2 separate regions of the Homo sapiens genome follow, and region 2 is linked to region 1. Evidence: fine-mapped expression QTL. Tissue or cell type: iPS cells. Region 1 holds a variant in brackets; the other region holds the start of a gene. All regions are shown on one strand. Distances are between the middles of the regions.

Evidence for each region. PIP is the estimated chance that this variant, and not a neighbour inherited with it, causes the effect.
Region 2: it holds the start of USP40, and the variant in region 1 is fine-mapped to the expression of USP40 in iPS cells (HipSci, PIP 0.91).

Annotation. Positions count from the first base shown.
Region 1 is chr2:233,356,244-233,359,007 of GRCh38, forward strand. All of the region lies in intron 1 of DGKD (diacylglycerol kinase delta), which reads left to right. Among named protein-coding and RNA genes, the nearest start is that of DGKD, 3.1 kb to the left of the region's middle. The variant CT/C (reference allele first, on the strand shown) is at 1,294.
Region 2 is chr2:233,565,637-233,568,268 of GRCh38, forward strand. It overlaps USP40 (ubiquitin specific peptidase 40), which reads right to left and starts at 1,146. Exons shown (of 32, transcript NM_001365479.2): 1 at 1,048-1,146.

The sequences.
Region 1 (2,764 bases):
GTTGGGCCAGAGGTGGATCACGTTGATTAGACTTATTAGTTGGAAGGGTTGGTTAGGGCTGAATTTCGAAGGGGTGGTCCTTTGAGGGGTTTGCTTTTTGGCCTTGGGCAAGAGGTGGCCACAGAGGATTGTTCAAAGTATGGGGGTGATGGATCAGATGTGCTTTTGGGAAGATCTCCACATAGCCCTAAATGATACTGATAGGAGTTGCTTTCTCCTGTTGCCCAGGCAAGGTACTGACCAGTGTGGGGTAGATCATGTGATTTACAAGGTTGATTAAGATCAAGATTGTGTTGAGAGAGATTTGATTCCTGGGAGATTCCAGTGTTTAGAATTTTGTTGGTTAGGAGGTGTTTTTGCTTTCCTTCTTTTTTCTCCTAAAACAATAGCTGCTATACCAGCTGTTCTGGTTGAGGAGGAGTGATGGGTAGACTGTTAAAAATACACCCCGAGGACTTAGAGTTTCTGAATACAGTCACATCTGCTGTACAGATAGCTTAAGGCTGATTTTTCTTCTGAGTTGTTAAGAGATTGTCAGAATGTGGGAATGCGAGGTTGACTGTATGTAATAGCTCCATTTTTTTTTTTTCCAGCAGATAAGCCATTCACAAAATTCCTCTGGTATCTATGGTACATAATAGAAACATCAAAAATGGTATGGGGTAGCAGTCTGAGTCTAAAAAGAAAAACAGAACTCACCTTAAGTATTTGGAACAGAAGGAATGTAATCTAGGGGAGTGGTCACACAGGTGATGTGAGAACTGAGAATGCAGGCTGCAATGAGGCAAGCCGGAGATGAGGCAACAAGCAGGAAACTGCTGCCACCCCTAAGTTGGAGGGTGAAGGAAGGAGATGGCATTTCAGACTCCAGGGACAGCTGTCACCCACCAAAAACTGGGGTCACAAGGGGTCCATCTGGCAGTGGCTGGAGCCTTGCAAGGGCACAGCTGCTGCTGCGGATGTACTGTTCCCCTCCTGCCTGGGAACCCTGGCCTTGCTGGGGTCACCTCCTCCACAACTTGGACTGGAGCAGAAGGACAAAGAATGGATCTGAGGACAAGCTGGCCCAGGACCAGAACTGTATGTATGTCAGGCTTTTAAAATATTAGTCTAGTGCAAGTCAGAGCTGTCTTAATGAAGAGAAAAACAAAAGAGAATGTCTTAGGGCAGTGCTCCTCAAATTTTAATGTGCAGACACATCTCCTAGGGATCCTGTTAAAATGATGATTATGGTTGAGTAGGTCTAGGGTGGGTGGGGCCTTAGAATGTGCATTTCTTTTTCTTTCTTTCTTT[CT/C]TTTTTTTTTTTTTTTTTGAGACAAGGTCTCACTTTGTCACCCAGGCTGGAGTGCAGTGGTGCGATCTCAGCTACGGCAACCTTTGCCTCCTGGGCTTAAGTGATTTTCCTGCCTCAGCCTCCCAAGTAGCTGGGACTACAGGCAAATGCCACCATGCTGGCTAATTTTTGTATTTTGTTGTAGAGATGGAGTTTCCCCATGTTCCCCAGGCTGGTCTCAAACTCCTGAGCTCAAGTAATACACCCACCTCAGCCTCCCAAAGTGCTGGGATTATAAGCTTGAGCCAATGCACCTGGCAGAATATGCATTTCTAACAAGCTCCCAGAAGATGCTGATGCTGCTGGTCCATGGACCAGACTTTGAAAAACAAGACCTTATGGCACACATGTAAAGAGAAGCCTCTCCAAACTTCAAATAATTCTTCAGGTTATAGATCTTTAGCATATTGAAAATTTGATGTGTGCAGATTTGTGATGGCCATTTATCAGTTTAGCATTTCATGCATGTCTGATTTTTTAATATGTTCGAGCTCTTTAGAGTTGAAGCTGTCCACAGCAAAGACATTACTTCATTTGTATTTCCTGACTACAGTACACAGTAATGACTCTGTAGAACTGCATAGCTAGAATGGAAAGAAAGAAAATGGAGCTAACACTCCGACCAGCACATTCACCAGCACATTATAAGGTATTTTGAAATTTCAGTGAAGAACCGTGTAATTCTGCAAAGCTATCAGTTAAAAGAGTTTAATTTATTTAAAAGTTTCTAGAAAGTTAACATTTTTTGGATATGAGCATGAAAGTGCTTGGATTCCTGATTTTAAATTTAAACAAAGCATTTTTTCCATTGTGAAATGAAGACTAGTAAAAATTAGGTAAAGGGTTTAAGTTGTAAAAAACTTAAAAAAATGCACCGCAGTTTTATGAGATATAATTCACATGGGATACAGTTCAGTGGTTGTTAGTATATTCGCTGTTTTGCAACCATCACCACAGTCAATTTTAGAACATTTTCATCACCCCGTTTCCTCTCAACTCCCTCAACCATAGGCAACAAGAATCTACTTTCTGTCTCTGTGTTTGCTGATTCTGGTCATTTTACATAAATGGAATCATACAATATGTGGTCTGGCTTCTTTAACTTAGCATAATATTTTTAAGGTTCATCCATGTCATGGCATGTATCGGTACTTCATTTCTTTCTGTTGCTGGGTAATATTCCATTCTACAGGCACACTGTATTTTATTTATCCATTTATCAGTTGATGGACATTTGGGTTATTTCTACTTTTTGGCTATTCTGGATAATGCTGCTGTGAACATTCATGCACATGTTTTTGTGTGGACATAGGTTTTCATTTATCTTGGCTATACACCTAGGAGTGGAAGTGCTGGGCCATATGGTAATACTACCGGACTATTTTCCAGCTAAAAAGCTGCCGTAACATTTTACATTCCCACCAGCTGTGT
Region 2 (2,632 bases), 210 kb after region 1:
CTTACACTTGGGAGTCGATTCTGTTGTTTCTTAGAACACAGGACTACTGTTTCTATGTACAGTAGTTGGGTTTTGGAGGCAGCAAGATCTAGATTTTTTTCATCCCTATCAGGACCCTAACTACCTGTGTGACCCTGGATATGTTAATCTGTTTTCTTATGTGTAAAATAGGATACCATCTGTCTCTTCGGGTCATTTAAACTATCCAATGACATAACGAAAGAAGGGCAGTTAGTGTACAGGGTTTGGCCCACAATAAGTAACAGCTGTTTTTAAAAAGGCACGTTCACATCACTAATTTTTTTAAAAAAGAAAACCTGTTGCCACAACTAATCCACTGCTGGGACGGCAAAGCCAACCCTAAATTCTGAGAATCAACTCTCTAAAATCTCTGCTTGTCACACCCTTCAGTACTATATACCAGATTATGACATTTAAATTAAACAGATCAAGTTAACTTTTTTTAGAGCACTTTAGTACAGTCCCGAAGCTGTTGGGCCGGAAGTCAGTTCACTGGGGAGGGAGGGGGGAAGGGGAGCGGAGGGCGGGGAAGACTGCCACTAAAATTATCAAGCCTAAAGGCCTTCCAGTATGTATCCACTAATCCCATCGTTAGCCCTGGGGGCCTAGGTGACTTCCCCAAGGTTTCACATCGAGTGTGGCGGAGGGTCACTTGGAGATGAGAAACGTAAAGCGCCTAGCATAGGTACCAAATGACAGGAAGCGCTGAAATGCAATTATTTTTCTTTTCCTCAGAAGAAAACTAAAAAAACACAACTCGAGAGTCTAGCCTCGAGCTCGTTGTCTGCATTCCTGAATTCCCAACTCCTACGGCCGGCCGAGGCCCTCCAAGCCACCACAGGCCCAGGGGCGCAAAAAGGCAGAGGTCCCCGTGGCCCGAAACCACTGCCCCGACTCCAGGAGAGCGCCGCGTCCTCAGGCAGGCCTGGGCAGCCTCTCGCCTCGCCCTCCTCAGACTGGGCCACCAACACTGTCCCTACGCTTCCCACGTCCCTCCCAGGATCCCCGGGCGCCAGCCGCACTTACTGCCTAAAGCCCAGACCCCCGCCCTGGCCAAAACGCGAAGCGAACGAACCCGCCCCAACTGGGCGCCGCCATGTTGGCGAGGGCGGGTCTCCAGAAAGTGATTTATGGATCGTGGACTATGCTTCCCAGGATGCCCCGCTGGAGCGCCGGCCCCTCGCACGGGGCCTTATGGGAAATGTAACTCTTCTGCTCCAAGAGTTTGGGAACTGGAGCGGGAGCGGGAGCGGGCAAGGTGAGCTCGCTTACAAGTCCGCTGGTGAGTTCGCGGGTCCACTCGGCCAGCGGACCACTCATTCGTTCACATTTATAAGATTATAGCTATATGATCTTATATAAGATTATAGCTATATGATCTTATATAAGATTATAGCTATATGATCTTATATAAGATTATAGCTATATGATCCTTATATAAGATTATAGCTATATGATCTTATATAAGATTATAGCTATATGATCTTATATAAGATTATAGCTATATGATCTTATATAAGATTATAGCTATATGATCTTATATAAGATTATAGCTATATGATCTTATATAAGATTATAGCTATATGATCTTATATAAGAGTATAGCTATATGATCTTATATAAGAGTATAGCTATATGATCTTATATAAGAGTATAGCTATATTATAGCTATATAACCTTATATAAGATTATAGCTATATAACCTTATATAAGATTATAGCTATATAACCTTATATAAGATTATAGCTATATAACCTTATATAAGATTATAGCTATATAACCTTATATAAGATTATAGCTATATAACCTTATATAAGATTATAGCTATATAACCTTATATAAGATTATAGCTATATAACCTTATATAAGATTATAGCTATATAACCTTATATAAGATTATAGCTATATAACCTTATATAAGATTATAGCTATATAACCTTATATAAGATTATAGCTATATAACCTTATATAAGATTATAGCTATATAACCTTATATAAGATTATAGCTATATAACCTTATATAAGATTATAGCTATATAACCTTATATAAGATTATAGTTATATAACCTTATATAAGATTATAGTTATATAACCTTATATAAGATTATAGTTATATAACCTTATATAAGATTAGTTATATAACCTTATATAAGATTATAGTTATATAACCTTATATAAGATTATAGTTATATAACCTTATATAAGATTATAGTTATATAACCTTATATAAGATTATAGTTATATAACCTTATATAAGATTATAGTTATATAACCTTATATAAGATTATAGTTATATAACCTTATATAAGATTATAGTTATATAACCTTATATAAGATTATAGTTATATAACCTTATATAAGATTATAGTTATATAACCTTATATAAGATTATAGTTATATAACCTTATATAAGATTATAGTTATATAACCTTATATAAGATTATAGTTATATAACCTTATATAAGATTATAGTTATATAACCTTATATAAGATTATAGTTATATAACCTTATATAAGATTATAGTTATATAACCTTATATAAGATTATAGTTATATAACCTTATATAAGATTATAGTTATATAACCTTATATAAGATTATAGTTATATAAC